Linked DNA regions of Homo sapiens: regions 1, 2 and 3 are each linked to region 4. Evidence: fine-mapped expression QTL. A gene starts in region 4. Each other region holds a variant in brackets. All regions are shown on one strand. Distances are between the middles of the regions. Region 1 has its middle 83 kb from the start of CTNNA1. Region 2 holds the start of LOC124901085 (a long non-coding RNA gene). Region 3 overlaps CXXC5 (CXXC finger protein 5). Region 4 holds the start of CXXC5 (CXXC finger protein 5).

The links.
Region 1: its variant is fine-mapped to the expression of CXXC5 in macrophages (Nedelec 2016, PIP 0.95).
Region 2: its variant is fine-mapped to the expression of CXXC5 in whole blood (TOPMed, PIP above 0.99).
Region 3: its variant is fine-mapped to the expression of CXXC5 in whole blood (TOPMed, PIP 0.95).

What each region holds. Positions count from the first base shown.
Region 1 is chr5:138,668,181-138,673,322 of GRCh38, reverse strand. No RefSeq gene overlaps it. Among named protein-coding and RNA genes, the nearest start is that of CTNNA1, 83 kb to the left of the region's middle. RefSeq lists a silencer at 4,530-4,579. The variant G/AAG (reference allele first, on the strand shown) is at 1,962.
Region 2 is chr5:139,705,829-139,710,970 of GRCh38, reverse strand. LOC124901085 (a long non-coding RNA gene) reads right to left here and starts at 1,069. Exons shown (of 2, transcript XR_007058963.1): 1 at 997-1,069. RefSeq lists silencers at 67-166, 887-1,256 and enhancers at 447-496, 741-1,731. The variant A/G (reference allele first, on the strand shown) is at 2,731.
Region 3 is chr5:139,673,972-139,679,113 of GRCh38, reverse strand. The region is part of intron 1 of CXXC5 (CXXC finger protein 5); the gene reads right to left. Among named protein-coding and RNA genes, the nearest start is that of CXXC5-AS1, 27 kb to the right of the region's middle. RefSeq lists enhancers at 1-340, 4,351-4,904. The variant G/AGG (reference allele first, on the strand shown) is at 3,098.
Region 4 is chr5:139,646,218-139,651,359 of GRCh38, reverse strand. CXXC5 (CXXC finger protein 5) reads right to left here and starts at 3,011. Exons shown (of 3, transcript NM_016463.9): 1 at 2,515-3,011. CXXC5-AS1 (CXXC5 antisense RNA 1) reads left to right here and starts at 1,632. Exons shown (of 2, transcript NR_149086.1): 1 at 1,632-2,025; 2 at 2,179-2,361. RefSeq lists an enhancer at 291-791 and silencers at 1,584-1,753, 1,954-3,083.

The DNA of each region.
Region 1 (5,142 bases), 980 kb after region 4:
TGAAAATTAATGAGCTAAGAATTTATCTTAATAAATTAGAAAAAAAGACACAGCAAATAAACTCAAAGTAGAGGGAAGGAAATGACAAAGTGGAGAACAGAAATTGAAGAAACAGAAAACTAACATGCAGCAGAGAGGATCAGCTAAGCTAGCCACAAGCCAATTGTGTGAAAATTGATAAATCCCTGGTGATAATGATGAAGAAAAAGTTGAAAGAAGGCAAAAATATTCAAAGTCAGGAATGAAAAGAAAGGTATTGCTATGGATGTTACAGGCATTAAAAATAAAATAAGAGGATATTGTGAATAATTTTGTGCCAATAAAACTGAAGGGTATATTCGAAATAGACAAATTGGTTGAATACATAACTTAGCAAAACTGACTCACCTTGACACAGGAATCAGGATAATCCTATAACCATTAAGGAAATGAAATCAGAAGTCAAACATGCTCCAGGAAGAAAATCTCAGGCTTCACTGGCAAGTTCTAATCTTTTTTTTTTTTTTTTTTTTGAGATAGGGTCTCCCTCTGTCACCCAGGCTGGAGTGCAGCGGCGCGATCGTGGCTCATGACAACGTCCACCTCCCAGGCTCAGCCTTCCAAGTAGCTGGGACTACAGGCACGCCCCACCATGCCTGACTAATATTTGTATTTTTTGAAGAGATGGGGTTTCGCCATGTTGCCCAGGCTGGTCTCGAACTCCTGAGCTCAAGTGATCTGCCCGCCTTGGCCTCCCAAAGTGCCGGGATTACAGGCGTGAGCCACTGTGCCTGGCCAAGTTCTAATTCTTAAAACACCCCAGGAGAGTGTTATAATTCCCATCTTCAGATGAGGAAACGGGCTCCAAGAAATCAAGCAACCTGCCTAAGGGCTCAGAGCTAGTAAATGTCAAAGCCAAGATTTTTTTTTTTTTTTTTGACAGGGTCTGGCTCTGTCACCTAGGCTGGAGTACAGTGGCATCATCTTGGCTCACTGCAACCTCCACTTCCAAGGCTCAAGTGATCCTCCCACCTCAGCCTCCCAAGTACCACAGGCACACACCACCGTGCCCAGCTAATTTTTTGTATTTTTTGTAGAGATGGGGTTTCACCATGTTGGCCAGGCTGGTCTCAAAACTCCTGAGCTCAAGAGATCAGCTTGCCTCAGCCTCCCAAAGTGCTGGGATTACAGGGGTGAGACATCACGTCCGTCCTGAAGTCAAGATTTGAACCCTGGTTGACTTGGCTCCAAAGCCAGAAAGTTCAGCCATTATACTCCTCAGCCTCTCCTTCAAATGCTATAGCCAGTAGCATAGATGTGAGGTGAAGGACAAGGCTGTGGTCCAGAAGCCCTAGAGACAAGTATCTGATATGTCCACTCAGAGAAGAAGGAACCTGGAGATCCCCAGGACCCCACTCTGCCATCCTTCAAGACCTATTCAAATGCTACCAGTGCTTCTCTGCAGAGCACCATAAACCCTGCCCAGAGACCCCATAGCTGTCCTAGGCCCCCTCACCTTTAAATGCCTCTGTCTCTGGGCCTTTTCTATATATTGTCTGCTGTGTATCATTCTCACCAAAGTTTTCCAACCTTGGAAATGCATGGCTCCCTGAGAATACAGGTCTTGGTTTGAGAAAGCTGCACTGAAAAGTTAAATGCTAGGCTGGGCATGGTGGCTTACACCTGTAATCCCAGCACTTTGGGAGGCTGATGAGGGAGGATTGCTTGAGCCCAGGAGTTCGAGACCAGCCTGTGAAACACAGAGAGACACTGTCTCTAAAAAAAAAAAAAAAAAAAAAAAAAAATTTTTTTAAAAGAAAATAGAGGGGCATGGTGATGCACCTATAGTCCCAGCTACTCAGGAGGCTGAGGTGGGAGAATCATTTGAGCCCAGGAGTTAGAGGCTGCAGTGAGCTATGATCATACCACTGCACTCCAGCCTGGGAGACCCTGTCTCCAAAAAAAAAAAAAAAAAAAAAAAA[G/AAG]TTAAATGCTGGCACTGTAGCAGATCACTGGGGCTCTGAAAACTGTAAGGCAACTACCAAACTACCATAGTCTTCTAGGCCAGGGGTCTCTAACCACTAGGCTGCGGACCGGTACCAGTCCCTGGCCTGTTAGGAACTGGGCTGCACAGCAGGAGGTGAGTGGTGGGCAAGTAAGCATTACAGCCTGAGCTCTGCCTCCTGTCAGGTCACAGTGGCATTCGATTCTTCTTTCTCCTTTTTTTTTTTTTTTTTTTTTTTTTTGAGATGGAGTTTTGCTCTGCTGACCAGGCTGGGGTGCAGTGGCATGCAATCTCGGCTCACTGCAACCTCCACCTCCCAGGTTCAAGCAACTCTCCTGCCTCAGCCTCCCAAGTAGCTGGGATTATAGGCACCCGCCACCACAACCAGCTAATTTTTTGTATTTTTAGCAGAGAGGGGGTTTCACCATGTTGGTCAGACTGGTCTTGAACTCCTGACCTTGTGATCCACCCACCTCGGCCTCCCAAAGTGCTGGGATTACAGGCGTGAGCCACGCTCCAACCGGCCTTAGAGTCTCATAGGAGCGCGAACCCTATCGTGAACTGCACAGGCGAGGGGTCTAGGTTGTGCGCTCCTTATGAGAATCTAATGCCTGAGTACAGTTTCATCCTAAAACCTCCCTCCGTCTGTGGAAAAATTGTCTTCCACGAAACCAGTCCCTGATGCCAAAAAAGTTGGGGACCGCTGTTCTAGACCACCCAAAATATGTTCTTGCTAAAAGTTATTTTAAGATTTTCACTAAAATAAAAACTAAAATTTAAATATTCTCATGGTAAAATTTGTGGTCCCCGAAGATAGATTTTATAACAAGCATGAACTGCTCCACAACATAACGTAGCATTTCATTCTCTCTTGAAATCAAAATTAAATCCAGTTTAAGTTTTGTGGAATGCTAGATTTTGCTTCCATCTCTTCACCCCCTCCTGGGTAATAGGGTTATCTATCCACATTCTTTACCCAGTAACTGTGAGCAGGGTGGATTTCTCCATACCTTGCCTCGGCTCAGCCATGTGACTTGCCATGAGCAGCAGTATTTTAGCAGATGTGACATGAGCAGAGGTTTAAAATGGGCGTGCACACTGGGACTGTTGCTGGGGTACTTCTGCCATCTCCATGAATGTCCCCTGGCTGGCCTGCTGGTCATGAAAGGAGGATGAGGGACACATAGAGTGGTGCCAACCCATGCCAGCCAAAGCTGGCCTATAGCAATGAACCCCAGCTGGTCCCCAAACACATGCACTAAATAAACACTGTTGTATGCTGCTGAAATTTTGTGATTGTTCTACCGCACTCATTACTGGGACTATGGTTAACTGATACAAGCCCCTTCTTACCAAGATTACCATGTCCTTCAGTACTGGCCATCGGCTGTGGCCAGTTGCCACAGCTAATATGTATGCCCGGCCTGGTTGTGAAGCACATCTGCAGGTGGGGGCTGCAGCCCCACCTCCTCTGTGACAAGTTCAGTCATGGTGTCCTTTGAGAACAAAGGCTCCCAAAACTATAGCCCTTTGTGCTCAGCCCTCATAGGCATACATGGCCCTCAGTGAAATCTGATCGCCTGGGTTTGATTCTTGGATCCATAACCTTAGGAAGTTCACTTAATCTTTCTTTGCCTTATCTGTCAAATGGAAACAATGATAGTACCTACTTCACAGGGTTCTTGTGAGAAATAAGTGAATACGTACAACATGCTTAACACAGTGCCTCCTGGCGCACAGTAAGTATGCACTAAATGCTGTCTATTATTATTATCACACATGTGGTCACCCAAATATTCTTCCTCCTAGGTCCTCCCATCTCAGAGGATGCATCCTCATGAGTGCAGGTTTCTGCCATCGATGGAATTCATACCTTCATTCCCTTTCTGATCTTGAGAGTTCCAACTAACCCTCCTGAGTTGAGACCATCCCACTTTAATCTGGGAAGCATTAAGCCTCCAATCCTAATCTTTGTTTAAAACGTCTGTTTGGAAGTTGTCTTCTGGGTATCCTGCTGCTTGCAGCTTCTCTTTTCTACTCTGAACTACACCAATCCTCATGGGGGTCAAGAAAGTCCACACTTCAAGGACATGAAGCCTGGTTCTCTCCTGCCCCTCGCCCCAGGGATGAAATGCCTTTCATTCTTTTTAGGTGAGCCTGCAGCTGAGAAAAACTAGACATGGTTATTTCCTCAATAGGTCATTCTGCTACAATTAATTCTCAATAAATCTTCACCATGAGACTGAATTCCTCGGCTATGTTTTATTCAGTGTGTACCTCCAGCACTTAGGGCAGAACCCACACTTAGTAGGTGCTTGATAAATGTGTAAATGAATGAATGAAGAATATGAATCACAGGGTGGGAACAATTTTCAAACTATGGGTGGAGAAATCAACATGATCATTCACTGTGTGCCCAGCCTCCTGCTTGACACTGAGGTCCAAGCAAGAAAAGTAACAAGGCACTTGGAGCTTGTAGTCAAGTCCTCAAAGACTAAAGTCTACAAAGGAAACAGAGCTCAACCACACAAATCACTTGCTCTGCCCATCCCACATCAGAGGGAACCCAGTGAAGTGTTGGTTCAGAAGAGGCAGGATGTGGCCTAAGGTCTGAAGGCACGGGAGGGGCCGGGGCAGAGGGCACGGGGGGCCCAGCTTACCCTGAGATAAGGTGTCCCAGAACACCACGAGCAAGGGCACAGCACAGGAATGAGATGGCTATTTGTGGAAAATAACCATGACACCAGCCTGAGCCATTTGTAGCACTTGTGATAGGGAGTCATGGGGGTAAACTTAGCTATTTCAGGCTGTGGGCTCAGTGTTGAGACCTGGAGGTTAGGCTGGGAGTGGATCCTGGCAAAACTGGCCACAAAGACTGGCCTGAGGCGAGGTGTGACAGCACCCACTAGCAGCAGGGCTCTCTTTCCTCTCATTCCAGGACCAGGTGAGATTTGAACCCCTGCCAGAGACTCCAAATATGAGCCCACCACAGGGGCATATCCCTCTGCTCCTCTAAGAAGGTGAAATTTGTATGGGTGAGGAGGCTTTGGTTTCCAGCAACAGAAAAACTCTAGCTAACTTAAGCAAAAAATGATCGTATTAGAAAGAAATGAGGGTGGCTCACAGAATCAAAGAAAATGCTAAAGAGGCTGTCCCAGAAA
Region 2 (5,142 bases), 60 kb before region 4:
ATTCCTCCTCCTTTTTTTTTTTTTTTTTTATTTATAGTGCACGGTCTCCATGGCAACCGCGGAGGAGGTCACGGTAGCTGGGCCCCCGCGCGTCACCCCGCGCCTCGCCGGCTGCAGGCGCCGGGATTGCGGCCTCCCAGGCGCCGCGGCCCGCGTGGACTCAGCTCCGAGTTCTCCGCCCCCGCTCCGCCCTGCTCGCGGCTCAGGCCCCAGCCATATGACTCTGCCAGGTCCCAACCGCGAATGGCGCACCTGGGCACCAGTGCGCTAGGCTATACCTCTGTCCCCGGGCTCTAACACGCGGGACTGCACCACGAAACACGTGCCCAACCCCAAGACAAGAACACGTGCGGCAAGACGCCGCCAAGGGGCTCTCTGCATTCGTGGATGCCCTGGGTAATCGACCTATATTGGCGCACAACTGCAGAGCTCTTGCTAAGACGCGACCACCCGAGGCTAACAACGCTGGCTTTGGAGTCAGAGCCCAGCCCCGCCTCGATAACTTACTAGCTGTGTGACTTCGGCCAAGTCACCACCTCTCTGCGCCTCAGCTTCCTCATCAGCAAAATGGAATTGTTGTGAGGCCTAATTGATACAAAATACGTTCAACGCCTATCATGGTGTTTGGCACGTGGTTCTGAAAATCTGTGGTTGGAGTTATTTCTTCTTGGCTGTGAAAGCCAAGGCCCTAAAGACTTTGAATAGGGGCGCGCGCTTAGCCCGGAGGCTAGGAGTTCCGCCTCGGGAGCTCCCCAGCACCTCAGCCTAGGCGCACAGGCGGCTAGTGGGAGGCGCGTGCGGGCTGCTTAGGGACTGGGCCAGCCTGGGGCGCGGCGGGCGGGGTTGCAGTCTCCAGAGCTCGCCACGTCCGCACCCGGAACCCTGGAAACGGGGCTCCCAGAGGCTCCCCCGCTACCATCCCCCCGCCCCCCCACGCCCGTCCCAGCACCATTAGCAACAGGCCTGCCCGCCCGCCCTCCTAGGCTGAGGCCGCACCTGACCCACCGGATGGCGGCTTCTGGGCTGAGCCGTGCCCCCCAGCGTGCACACTTCCTCCCGGACCCCCAGCGCCCCGTCGAGTGCACAGAGGGAGGGGATCGGGCCGCCCCCGCCCCGCCAGCTTCCCACAGCCAGAGCTGCCCGGAGCCGGGGAGGCAGGAAGTCTCAGAGCCGGGGCGTGGAGGCGGGGTGGGGGCAGGAAGTTGGGGGTGACTCTCCCAGAGACCCCAGACAGGGCCCCGGCGTGGGAGCGGGGTGGGCGGGCACGTAGGGATTAAGGGCGCCCCCCTCCTCTGTAGCCTTAGGCCATGTGACCCCGGCTGGAACACCCTGCAGGGTGAGGGCGAAGGCCGCTACCTCTGGCGACCCCCAGCAGCGCGCACAGGGAGGGAGGGGCCGCCTTTGTCTACTTTGCCGCAGAGGCAGCCCCCCACAACCCCTCCCCTCAGCGCCCCGCCGGGCCCTGCACAGCCCGGGTTTTCCATCCGGCCCGGCTCGGCTCGGCAGCTGTCAGGGGACCGAGCTGACCTTCGCGAGCAGGGAGTTTCAATTAGCCGCAGATCAGATAAGCGGGCGGGCCAGTCTCTCCGGGCACCGCGGGGGCGCAGCCCCGCCCCCGCCACGCCGCGCCAAACGCGCTCCAGATGGGAACAAAGATGAGGACGCAGCTCCACCTGCCTCCCCGGGGAGGGGAAGAGGAGGCCCCGCCGGGAGGACCTTCCCACCAGGGGAAGAGGTCGCGCGCCCTACCCTGCCCTGCCCGTCTGGGATTCCAGGGTCATGGGTCTGGCCAAGATGATCTTTGCGGTTCTGCTTGCCTCCTGCACTGAGGAGAGGTGCCTGCTGCACTGACCTCATCCCCGGGCGGGCGCCGTGCCCTCCCTCTCCCGGAGGGAGCGTTTTGCCATCTCTGATCTCATCCAGAGCCTCCCTGGGAGGCTGAGAGAAGGCAGAGCCCAACAGAAAAAGGAAGCTGAGGCTGGGACTTCTTGATCCAGGTCACACCAACTACATATTGTTCAGATGTTTACTGAGTGCCTACTACGTGCTAGGCACTATTTAGACCATGGGAACACGAGAGCACAGTCTTGTCCCCAGCCTCCCAGAACTTGCGTTCTAGTCACGTTCAAGTAAACAAATAGTTGACCATGATCACTTCAGAGAGCATGAGGAGCCATGAGGACATTAAAGTAGGTCATGTGAGACTGACTTCAGGGAGGGGTCCATATGAGCTATTGTCGTCAGGGGAGGCCTCTGAGGAGAAGACATCTGAGCTGGAGCCTGAAAGACCAGGAAAAGCCAGCCAAGCAAAGGAGAGGGGGCAGAGCATGCCAGGCAGAGGGCACAGCAGGCACAGAGGCTCCAAGGCTGCAAAGGCTCCAAGGCTGCAAAGAACGTGCCTCTTGAAGGTGAGGGGAAGGCCTTTGTAAGCCCAAAGGGTATGCCTATAGGGCTGGGCTTTGCAGGCCCCCTGAGGGGCCAGGGTTTATGCAAAGTGCCATGGCAGCCTTCAGTGGGTTTTAAGCTGGGAGATCTGACTTAAACTTTTTAAAGATCCCCCTGGCCACCCTGTAGACCAGTGGAAAGGATCAAGCAGGGAGACCTGGGAGGAGGGGCTGGGGGTTGGGATAGCGAGGGAAAGATGGTGGTGGAGAGGTTGCTGGCTTAGAGATATTTTGGCAGATGAATTGGATGTGTGGGTGAGGTAGAGTGATAGAAGTTTGCTGAAAC[A/G]GGCCGGATTTGAACCTAGGTCGGTCTTTGGGAGCATGGAGGCCCAGCTTAAGAGGTTAAGGATAAAGCTATGGAGCAAGAAGCCAGGGTTGAAATGCCAGTAGTGATATTTACTAGCTGAGTGACCTTGGGTAAACATTTAGATCAATTTCCTCAAGCATTTGAAAAGAAAAGGATGGGATCATAATCCAGATTGTCATTGTGAGGTTTGAGTATGATGTAAGGTGGAAGTGTTTAGCATTGAGCCTGGGAGGAGTAGGTGCTCTATAGATGTTGGCTGTTATTGTGGGGGTTGTTGCTACTCCACCCACCCCCACACACCTGCCTCTTAGTACCAGAACAGTCCTCAACACACAGCCTGGCCTTTCCACCCGACCTCTGGCTTTGTTTTCATTTGCTAAGGGTAGAAGCTCCTCCTCCCATCAACCACTGCTCCCCTCACACACCTTTGTTTGGAAGGCTGTTTGAGGGGGTGGAGGTCACTGGGAAGAGACCGACCCAGTCCTTGTTCACTAAACCGTCTGCTGGGATCCTCCTCATCTCAGGACCCTAACTCTCCATCCTCTGGTTACAGTAAGAGTTGCTCAAAGGTCTCAAGGTGAGCCCTCCCCCACTGCCTGCCTGAAGAGTTGAGACCATTCAGTTATCACGCATTCAATCAGTTGAGTGACCCTCCAGGGCCCAGGGTAGTGGTGGGGACAGACAAAAGCAAATGCAGGCCCTGCCCTCGGGCAGAGGCCTAGACTCTTTCCTGAATTGCAGTTAGTTATGGCATTTTAGGCTCTAGGAGCTGAAGGAGCTGAGCAGGGCAGGTAGAGGGGTCGGGGTGGAGGCCTAAATTACAACTCCCATTTATGGAAACTTTACCCAGGGCCAGGCACTTTGCTCTGGTCCGTGAATGTCACACATACATGTCATCGAGTCCTTACAACCACCCCATCCACCCCATGAGATTGGTACAATTTTTTGTTTTTGTTTTTCCGAAAGAGTCTCGCGCTGTCACCCAGGCTGCAGTGCAGTGGCGTGATCTCGACTCACTGCAACCTCCACCTCCCAGGTTCAAGTGATTCTCCTGCCTCAGCCTCCCAAGTAGCTGGGATTACAGGCATGCACCACCATGCCTGGGTAATTTTTGTATTTTTAGTAGAGAGGGGTTTCACTATGTTGGCCAGGCTGGTCTTGAACTCCTGACCTCATGATCCGCCCGCCTTAGCCTCCCAAAGTGCTGGGATTACAGGCTACAGGCATGAGCCACCGCGCCCAGCTGGTTTTTCTTGTTTGTTTGTTTATTTGTTTGTTTTTGAGATGGAGTTTTGCTCTTGTTGCCCAGACTGGAGTGCAATGGCGTGATTTCAGCTCACTGCAACCTCCGCCTCCCAGGTTCAAGCGATTCTCCTGCCTCAGTCTTCCGAGTAGCTGGGATTACAGGCTCCTGCCACCATACCCGGCTAATTTTTTTGTATTTTTAGTGGACATGGGGTTTCATCATGTTGGCCAGGCTGGTCTTGAACTCCTGACCTCAGGTGATCCATCTGCCTCAGCCTCCCAAAGTGCTGGAATTGCAGGCATGAGCCACTGCACCCAGCACAATCATTGTTCTTAATGTATGAGTAAACAAACAGAAACTTCCAGAGGTGATGTGCCTTGCCCAAGATCTGCCATTAAGTGGTAGGGCTGGAAATCAAACCCAGGCCTGGCTGAAGCCAGAACAGGAGAATTTAGCCATTCTGCTATCTGGCCTCATATGTCATTTAATGGACAAATGCTTCTTAAAGGCCTTCAACCGACATCCTGTAGAGATGGATCTGCCCCTTCTGCCCTTGACTTCCCTGTGTGCCTGAATTTTCAAGGACAGAGGCTGAATCAAGCCCAGCCGGGTTCTAGGTACACAGTAGGTATACTTCAGTGTGGCAACCTCTTGACAAAGCAGTGATGATACCTGCCCTCACCTCCACACCTCCCCTTGGGTTCTGGGCCCCCCTTTCAGCCCATTTCAGAGAACCTCAGAGCTGTGGACTAGAAAAAGAAAGTTCTACTTTGCATAATATTTGCATCTGCTTTGCATGCTGTTCACCTAACATCAAAATGTACAGAGGCCTTGGCGCTGGCACCCTATTCCCCCTCTTGGGCTCCTAAGCCCACCCACCTGCCGACCCAGACCAGGGGGTAGGGTTCTTGGGGGACCCATTTAGGCTCCACATAAGCTTGTCTACTTCCAGTGTGCTGGTGAGGGAGATGGGAAGGCTCCTGCCCTCATCTCTGCCCCTCCCTCCCCTCCATCCCTTCCTGGGGGAAGTGTGGTGGGTCAGGGCAGGAAACCTAGGCAGCACGCACACACACATGCAGAGCAGTGCGGCAGGAACTACCCCCGATCTGGGAGCCTGCCTGGGAGCCTGAGGTTGAGGAGAAGGG
Region 3 (5,142 bases), 28 kb before region 4:
GGAGTAGGCGTGACCCTCAAGGGAATGGAGCCCAGCAGGAGCCTGTCCTCTGGCCACCTCCATATTTCCAAGGCAGCCCATCCCGGGGCAGGGCCTGCTCTACTCAGGTTTCAAGGCTAAGGCGTCTGAGCTGCCTCCTCAGCTGAAGGGACTGGGCCAGATGGAGCAAGGCGGCGGTTTCCTCATCAGTCCCGGCTCTCCAGCCTTGCTTCCCTGTCTGCCTGCTGTGGCCTAGCATGCCCCAAGAGAGGGGTGGGAGGACAGGGCCCAGCCCCAGAGCAGCTGGAGGCTCAAGGGGGAGGCGCACATCTGGCGGGCCCCATCACGCCCTGGGCTTGAGGGCAGCACACACTGGATCTTTGTCCCCAGGCAACCCCAAAACCCCCCTAGTCACAGGACTCAAGCCTGTCCCAAGAGAGCATCTAGTCCAACCCTCTGCATTTACAGAGGGGGAAACTGAGGCCCCAAGCGGGGGGGAGGGGGGGCTTCCCCAGGACTAAGGAGTGGCCAAAGAGGACCGGGTGTGGGGAAAGGAAAAGCTCTGTCTCTAGGGTGAGGCGAGTAGCCGCCATCAACAGTCAGATACTCCCTGTCCCTCCCCAGTGGGCACCAGACCACCTAGGGCTCCTTCCTAGCAGAGGGAAATGGGTGAGGAGGAAGAGCTGGGCAAGATGGCAGATTCCACCAGGACAGAGCCGGGGGGCCCTGGCAGGGAATCCAGGCTGGGTTGGGGGGCATCAGAGGTCAGAGCTGAAGCAAGAAGACCATGTGTGTCCAAGGATAGCTGTGTTCCCTCCCACCTCATAACGGCCAAGACCAGGATGGTCTTTTCAGCCCCTCTCCTCAGAGACTGGTGACCCTTTCAGGAATCAGTGACCCTGGCTAGTTGTTGGGGACCAGGGTCAGTGAGATCAGGGACAAAAACCGTCAAGTCAGCTCATCCAGCTCCTGCCCAACTAAGCTCATCTGCCCTGCCCTGGACGACAACCCCGGCAGCCCAGATACTGGGTGAGGGGAGAAGGCAGAAGGCAGGTGTCTTGTGGGCTGCAGAGATGGGGAGGGGAGCAGGCTGCGCCCCAGCCCCTGTGTGCGTCCCCCGCCTCTGCGGCCTGCTGGCTGGTGGCAGAAATCGATAGCTGCATTAACGCTGTTCCTGCTCTGCTCACCCCCTCCCTCCTCCCAGCTCCAGGATCTGGCTCTGCGTGCGGGGCGGGCAGGTCAATTAGAAGTCAGCTCCTTCCAACACAGCCGGCCTGCGCTCAGGGCTGGCGCTCTGGCTGAGTGTCTCGGCTTTTGTCTCCGTCCTGAGTCTCTCCTGGTGGGGACCAAACCTCATGTTCTGTTCCTCTCTTGGAATTTCTCTGATCTTCCACTATTCTATCCTTCTTCAGGGCCCACCCACCCCCAGCCTCTGAGGTCCTGGGACATACTGAGCTTGGGACCAGAGGATGTGATATGTCACCAAACAGGTGCTGCAGGCAGAACACTATGGTTTTTCAGCCACAGAAGTTGAAGGGAGGTGGGTACACGGAGGGACTGGCTCACAGGGACAACTCTGTTTTCAAATCCAGAGTAGACAGACATGAACATCTGGTCCTCAAGCTTGTTCCAAATCGGCCCTGATACCTGGCTCATCTTCTCCTTCAGACCTTAGGAAAAACTGATGTCCTGGTCCCAGTGGACCCCTGACCAAAAGCCCCATTTGCCCTACTCATGGAAGAGGAGGACATAGAGGGGACGTTCTCCCAGGTCCCAGTCTTCTACTCTAGGGCACACAGCCATCCCCTTCCAGGCCAGGAAGGGCCTGGCAGTGCCCAGGCAGCAGGGGAGGAGTCAGGGCTGCGTTGAAGCGGAGCGGGAATGAGCGGGAGGGAAAGCTGGCGGGCAGGCGGGCGGCGGCGGGCGCATCCATCATCGGCCCTGCCAGGAACACATCCAGCCCCCAAAAAGAAATACTGCGCCTGAGGAGGGACAACAAAGGGCTCCGTTTCATCAGCAATGCGGAGCCAGCGCCCCGCCGCCCCGCCAGCCGCGGTCAGCCCACAAAGGACCCCTTTGTCCATGCAGGAGCCGGCCAGCCGGGAGCTGGGACCAGGGGCTGACGGGCGGGGACAGAGCACGGGGGGCTGAGGGGGGACGAGTCATGGAAAGCTGGGGGGCAGAGGGGCATGCGGGGGCAGAATAGAGACAGGTGGTGGGGACAGAATCATGAGACAGAGAACTAGAGGGGAGGATCAGAGAAAAGGGGAGCTGGAGAGGAAGGGGCAGAGGGTCAAGGTTAGTGGAGACAGTGTCATGGGAAGCAGTGTCTGGGGTAACAGGGTTCAGAGACCCAGGGACCCAGGACACCTTGTCCAGGCTCAGGGACTTGAGGGTCTAAAAGACAAGGAAACAGCCCTAAGGAGGGAATCCCAGAAGGCAGCTGGGCATGCCCACAGGAGAGGGAGGCAGAGGGAAGGGTAGAGGAGAAGTGGCGAGGAGACCAGATCAGACCCACTGTGTAGCCCAAGGCCTGAGAAGAGGAGGTGGGGAGGAGATGGGGAGGAGTCTGGGGAGGAGGGCTGGGGACGAGGGTGGGGAGGACACTGGGGAGAAGGACTGAGGAGGAGATGGGGAGGAGCCTGGGGAGGAGGGCTTGGGGGGAGGTGGGGAGGAGGCTGGGGAGGAGGTGGGGAGGAGGCTGGAGAGGAGATGGGGAGGAATCTGCGGAGGAGGCCTGGGGAGGAGGGTGGGGAGGAGTCTGGGGAGGAGGGCTGGGGAGGAGGGTGGGGAGAAGGACTGGGGAGGAGGTGGGGAGGAGGGCTTGGGGGGAGGAGGCTGGGGAGGAGGGTGGGGAGGAGGGTGGCAAGAAGGACTGTGGAGGAGGTGGGGAGGAGGGTGGCAAGAAGGACTGTGGAGGAGGTGGGGAGGAGGGCTTGGGGGGAGGTGGGGAGAAGACAGGGGAGGAGGACTTGGGAGGAGGTGGGGAGGAGGCTGGGGAGGAGGACTGGGGAGTACCGAGGAGGAGGTGGGGGGTAATGGGTTCTTGGCCCCAGAGCATGGCTGCAGGGCCCAATGCCTCCTGTAGGCTCCAGCTAACTGGCTGAGCTGGAAGGAG[G/AGG]GAGACTCATACCTGGGGCCACCTTCCTGGCAGTGGAGGCCACCCCGTGCCTCTACCCTAAGGCTCTGGCCAGCCCCAGAAGGCACGGAGCCTGCCCCCTTCTAGCCAGCCCCCACCACCTGTGTTGCCACTCTGGTTTCCTTAACCAACGGATCCTATCAACCAGCATTTACTGAGTATCTACTGTGTCCCAGGCCCTGTGCTTTTATGCTTTACATGTCTTAGCTTCTGAATGCCTCCCCAGAACCCCGGGAGACAGAAACTATTTGCCAATTTCAGACATGAGGAAATTTAGGCTCAGAGAGGTTCAAGCTGTCAGCCTCAGGTCAAACAGCTGGTGCCTAGCAGGGGTAGAGCTTGAACCCAGAGCCCAAGTGTTAGTCACCCTGTTCTGTGGCCACTTTTGCAATTGACAGAGTGGCCCAAGGCAGGTGACCTAGGTACCCCTAAGGCTGCTCTCACTCCCCAGGATTGTTACCGTGCCTGTCACCTCTCCGTGGTTGGGGGCAAGCTGTCACAGACCCCAGGAGAGTGCCCCCACCTGGGGCACTTGGAGATGCCCAGGGCCTGGAATGCTAAGCCAGTGACATCATAATGCCAGCTGGCAGTGAGGTCACTGGAGGTGGTGGCAGTGCCCTTATTCAACCCTCAGCCCTAGAAGAGCCTCACTTCACCCCCCGCAGGGTTCAATCTTGAACTCTCGGGCCAGAAAGCACTGGGAAGGAGGGGACATCCTGGGATGACATAGTGCCATCTGCACACAGACATGTACACAGGTGGCCCACAGCTGGATGTTCTAGATATTCCTTTGCACACATCTTCCCTGCACCTACCTCGACAGCAGCCCTGTACCTTATGATACCGGAGAGACAGCAGAGCACACAGACCCAGACCCCAGCACTGCCTTCCAGGAGTGCACAGGAGCTGGGCCCACAGTCACATGAACCAGCGTGAAACAAGAGCCGGAAGGGGACACAATGAGCTATCTGAGGCCTTCCTGGAGGAAGGGACTGCTAGTTTGAGAGTTAAGGATAAGGAGAAGCAATGAGAGGGGACAAAGGCATGAAAGAGAGCCTAAGCAGGTGGGGAAGAAGATGTGAGGTGTGTCTATGAGGCTGTCAGGGTCCCAGTTGTGCAGGGCCTTGAGGCCAAGGGCAGAATTTTTATTATTATTATTATTTTAATTTTTAGTAGGGATGAGGTCTTCCTATGAGGATCAAGCAATCCTCTCACCTGGGCCTCCCAAAATGCTGGGATTATAGGCGTGAGCCACTGCGCCTGGCTGGCAGGATTTTTAAAAAACAGTTTTATCGAGGTATAGTTTACATACTATAAAATTCTGCCACATTAAAGTATACATATAATTTAATGATTTTTAGTAAATCAACAAAGTTGTGCAACCATCACCACTACCAAGGGCAGGGTTTGACCAAGGCACCATCCCCGCCATTCCTTGCTGGCTGACCAGCCTTGCAGCCATTCTGCCTGCCCAGGGAGGCTCGTGGAAGAGGCTGCGTTTCAGGACCCCCAACACTGGCCCAGCAGAGCTGCACACCCTGGCTCAATGCACCACTTTCCACGCTTCCATGCAGCACTTGACATCCCGGCCCTTGTCTCCTCCCCCCCACCTTGGTGGGCCGGTCTCCTTGGCCTGCCTCCAAGTGAGGCAAAATACGCAGACAGGCTGATGGTGGGCAAAGCAGACCACAGGCTATGGTGGTTGAACCAAGCTGGGCAATGGGGTGGAAGGGAGGGTGTCCCGTCTCTGATTTCCATGATTCAGCCTGGGGAGTTTCCAGAGGGAAAAAGAAGCCCTGCTCAAGCCCAGGGAGACTGGTCTTGGAGGCAGGGAGAAACGCAGCCCCAGGCGGAGAGCACAGGGCACACATCCAGCTATGGATGGACACACATACCCCCACACACTGGCCACTGCGAGCACCCAGAGGGTGGCCTGGGGTGAGACATGGCCTCAACCCCACTAGAGTCACCCCAAGACTGACTGCCAAGGACAGAACAAGGGACAGCATTTCTATATCCCCGACTCC
Region 4 (5,142 bases):
TCCAGGCCTCACGTGATAAAGACGAGGCCACTGGCCCTCGGGTAAGTCAACAGGCTCTGTCGCGGGAGAGATAGGAGGCCCTGGCCAGGGTCACCTGCTGAGCGGGGAAAACGGCCAGGACCAGATACACACATAAATAAGGCACCAACCCGACAGCCAGCCAGCCAAGGGTCTGTCTTCTGCAGAGGCTCACCTTGGAAAGGGAGGTGGCATGGAGAGGGAGGCCAAGGCTGACTAGGGGCGTCCCTGGGAGAGACCCAGCTACTGCGAGGATGAGGGGTAGGGGGGTTCTACCCAAGTTCCGGGGGCTGGCTGGGAACTCGGAGGCCAATCTCCTTCAGCTGTTCCCATCTCTTCCCAGGGCAAAAATCAAACCATCACCCCCTCTCCCTCCTCCCCAAGGAGAGGACAATTTCCGTTCTGGGAGGGGGGTGACAGCTGCAGAGCGGGCCACTCCCCACCCCCCCAAGCTCCAGCCTGACTCTCATCTAGGGAAACTGCTAAATCAACAATACGCAGTTACGGGTAGGTAGCCCGCCGGCCTGAGTTTCCCCGCACGGCTCTCAGAAAGGGGTTTAGAGGGGGCTTCGGTCTCAGTTCCCGGTTTTCTAGTGGCGGTTGGAAACCAAGGCACGGGCATCTTTCAGGAGGGGGATCAGGTGAAGCTTAGGCCAGTAGGTCCCCCAAGACGTCTAATTTAAATACTCCCAACTGCAAAGGACAGACGCCCCCCACCCCGCGGCCTGGGGCAGCTGAGGTGGAGCCGGGCGTTCAAATCGCGCTCCAAACAAGTCCGCAGCGACCGCGCTCGCAGCCCCCGCCAGGCGGCCCCAGCGGAAAACTTGAAAGGGACTCTGTTTGCCGGCGGCCCTGGGGCGGCTCCGGCGGGGGCGAGGGCCGAGCGATCTCACACACGCCCCCTCCCCAACGCTTCCAAAGAAAATGCGGGGGTGGGGGGGACAGGGCCCACCACAAATCCAAGGGCTCCAAACAGCGCCCGCCGCGCGAGGAAAGGTGGGGGTCAGGAGTCTGGTCCGCTGGTCACCCCCTTAGCTCCCCCCCCATCCGAAGGCGCGACTCTCAGACCACCCAAAGTCCAGGGGGCAAAGGAGGGCGCGGTTGCCAAACCTTCAGACCCCCGTCGCGGGAGACTTCAGGGAGCGGGTCTTTCCGAATGAGTCACTACAGAACCCCCCAAATTTACTGGTGCTTCCTTGCAGCCCGAGGCACCAGCCCAACTCCGCGCACCCCTTCAGATTCCCGGGGGGGAAAAAAGAACAAAAAGAGATCTTGCTCCCACTTTGGGCGTTTCAGCTCTTCTGACAGGTCCCGAAGGTGGCCCCCCATTTAAAAACCGGGGTCACTCGCTTTCCGTCGATCCTACAAATAAACAAAGCCAGGCGCACCCCGCGCTCCCCGCCGGAAAGCAGCCCATTCCGGGCGAGGACAACTTCCCCCAGCCAGAAAATTAACACATTCCTCTCGCGGCGGTTCAGCCCCTCACTCCGCTCCGGGGAAGCGAAGGGGAGGGGGGTCGGGCCGAACTTCATGGGTAAATTTGGGGCCAGTGCAGCGTGGCAGGCGCCGGGGACGTACGCCCCCCACAGTTCCGCAGCTAGAGGAACACCCCCATTCTCCCTCCCAGGCTCTGCACGCTGCGTGGCCCACGCGGGGCTCGGGAGACAGCTCAAAAGACTCCCCAAGGCTGGGAAAGGAGGGAGGGAGGGGCCGCGGGGCACCGTGGTGGTGGGGGAGATACTTTGATGGAAAAAAAAGGTCAAACTTCATCAGCCCGCCGGGCACCCCGCGGGCAGCGGGGGCGAGGAGCCGGAGGAAAAATGCAGAAGTAGCCGCCGCTTCTTCCAAGTGGTGGGGGAGGCTCAGCCACGCGTGGTCGAGGGCGCCCAGAGCAGTTAACGTCGCCCCTCAACACAGGGCTGCGAGCGGGGTCTGATGGGGGGAGTGCGCGCCAGAGATCTACAAGCAGCCGCCCCCGCAGGCTGAGCGCCCGCCCAACGCCAAGAGGTGAGGACCCCGGGCGCCCGCTGCCCCAGCGCCCGCGAACTGGAGTAGTGGGGGGGAGGGGGGCGGCACCCCGCAAGGAGCGTCCCAGCCCCACTCCACGGCGCCCAAGCCGCCGTCCCAGACCCTAAAACCCCTCTTTTTGTCTGAACTCAGTGATCTGCGACCGAGCATACTGCGGCTTAGGGAGGCTTGGGTATAGCAGCGGCCACCAAGCGATCACCGGCGCTAGGTCTCCCAGGCTCCGGGGCTCCGCGGCTTACGGTGCGGGCGCCCCCCGCCCCTCCCAAATACGGACCCCTCCTTCCCCGTCCCCGGCTCTCCGCACCTGAACTTCGGGGGAACCCGCGCAGCCAAACTTTCCGCCGACTTGCAGCGAACTCCGGCCCCGGCCGCGCACCGAACCCCGGGGGAGGAGAGGGAGGTAGGCGGGGAAGGGGAGGGGGCCGGCCTCCGGGGGGGGTCGAGGGAGGGCCGTGGCCCGACACCTACCGGCTCTCCGAGTCGTCCAAGCCGCCACCGCCGCCGTCGCCGCGAGGCCGAGGGGGAGGGGCGGGGCAGGGAGCTGCGCTCCGCTCTGGGCACCACCGCCGCGGTGCGCTCCGCTCCAGCCGCCAGCAGTGCCCGGGTCCGGAGCCCGAGTCGCGCCGCCGCGGCTGGCCCGAGGCGGGGAGGGGGGGGAGCCTGCAGCACCTGCCCCTCCTCCCCCTCCCCGCGGCCCAAATTAAAAAACAACAAAAAGCAACTAATCACCCCCGAGCTGAGCGCGGCTCGCGGGCGGAGGGCTCAGCGTGCGGCGCCCGGACTCAGCAGGCGGCGCGCATGGCTGGGCGCGGGCTGGGCAGGGCTGGGACGCGGGGCCCGGCTTCAGGGGATAAGGCTCTGCCGCTCTTCTCGCTCGGCTCGGGCGTCTGCTCTTGCCGCCAGTGCCGCCTCTGCTGCCGCCGCCTCTACATCCCCGCTCAGGCTCAGCCGCCTCTGCCGCCGCCGCCGCGCGCCCGCCCGGGCAGGAGCTATGAACGCTGCCCGGGGGCTGCCGGCAAAACCCGGACCGGACTCGCCGCTCCCTCCTCCCCCCAACCCCCTCCACCTCGGCTCCCCTCCCTCCTCCCGCCGCCTCCCTCCCAGCGCAGCTCGGGCCACTTGGACGCCGCGGGCTCTGAGGCCGGAGCTGCAGCCGCTGCGCCTCGAGCTCCCCGCGCCCTGACGCGGTCCACCCAGGCTCAGCTCCCTTGCGCGCCCCGTCTTCGCCTATTTCCCGCAACTTTACAAAAAAAAAAAAAAAAGGACGACCTCCCCGCTTTGGTGAGGCGGTCTGGGTTTAGAGACGCACCTCCGGGGAAATCTGCTATCTTTCTGCCCCCTCTAGAGCGGGGCCAGAAGCTTCGAGGACCGGGAGGGAGAATTTGGCCGCGCCCCCCAGCTCAGGTGCGCGGCGGGCCAGAGATTCCTAGTCGAGGGTCCTGGGAGGTAGACGCGTGTTCCAAGACCCCACCCTTCCAAGAGCTCCTTAATGGATTCAGTGGGCACTAGGGCCCCGGGAGAAAAGGGGCGGAGATTCCCGTTCCCATTTCTCAGGTGAGGAAACTGATCCGAGAAAGGATATTTTATCTCTCAGGCAGGCATCAGCCTCAACTCTTGAGTCCCGGGGCTAAAACGACTACGTACATTTGGTGCCCTGAGACCATGGCCTACGCACTCAAAACCCGAAACAATGCTTGGAACAGCAGCGCTCAATAGGTACTGATTGAAAGACAGAAGGAAAACTCAGCCTTGCCAGAGTAGGCGCCCAGTGGGGACAGAGTTGGGCCCGCATATCCCGCTTTCACTCCATCAGTGGCCTCCATATGCCCATCTTAGGCTAATTAATCCTGCTGCTGCAGATGTCTTCACCTCACGTACCCATGGTGCAAGCCCCGGGCTCATATAATCCCAACTGCATATAATCCCAAAGTGGAAGTTTTCTCCAATTCTTTGGGATTCGTGGGGGCGGATTTGTGCAAGGCCGACCTTCCTCTGCGAGGCGAAGAAAACGCAGTCCCCAGACCCAAGCAGGGGAGGGAGAGGGGGAGGGCGGTTGGGGAAGTCAGCCTAGGGTTAAACGTTACAGCCTGAGATCGATTGGGGCCCAGATAACAGGGAGTTAACTGTGGCGATCCGGGCGCCTGCAGCCACAGGCGCGGCCTCGGTGGGAGAAGCGAAACTGTCTCCCACCTCGCTGCTTCCTCTCCTCTGCTCTGCGCAGCCTGGCTGTCTCCGAGGCTGGCGCGAGGGCTTATGGAGCATGGATCTCCTGGCAGCAGCAGCTGGTGCCCACCTTCCACGCCTTCTATATGTGGCCTTGGGGCCTTGACCCAGCCGGGGTGGGGTGGGGGGAGGTGTCAAAGGGCAGAGCTCATCTGGAATGTGTTGCCTCTCTGCCACTCCTGATATCCAAGACCACACGAAGTGACCCCTCCCCAGACATCGTGGACACCTGCTCCCAACCAGTTCCTTCCGAATGCTGAGAAGTGGTCTCCCTTAACTACTATGCCAAGAAATGGCTCCCTTGGGGAGGCGTTTAGTCTCTCTCCTCCTTGCCAGCAGTCCTTTTAATGCCCCCCTCCAAACAAACATCCCATGTGAGTAAAAGTAAGGTGCTTGCTATGGAAACCGTTTTAAGACGCCCATCACCCCCAGAAGATCACTTCCAAACTGCTTAAAGATAGGTATGCTGGGCCTCAGTGTGAATGTCAGGCACTGTGTTGGGCACTGACCGTGCAAGGAAAAAGGAAGCAAAAGCCCAGGTGTAGGATCTCCAAGCATTTAACTCACCTCCATCTACCTTTTCTGGGGAAGCTGAGGCACAGACTGTGAGGGAGGACCTGCTCCCTGGGAGTCAGCAGCAGGTCTCAGAGGGTTAGGATCCATGAAGTCAAACTCTATTCCACAGATCTCCTGAAGCCTAACGCCAGTACAGAGTCAGGTCATGCACGCCCCACAAAAAGCTTTATGCTGGGGTCCATGGCAGAGGGTGGGTAGTAATTCTACTTTAGGGAACTGCTGACTATTACCCACTTTTTTTTCAGACTTATGCCTCCACCCCCACCCCCAACTCAGGCGGGAGGCCAGGGATCCACA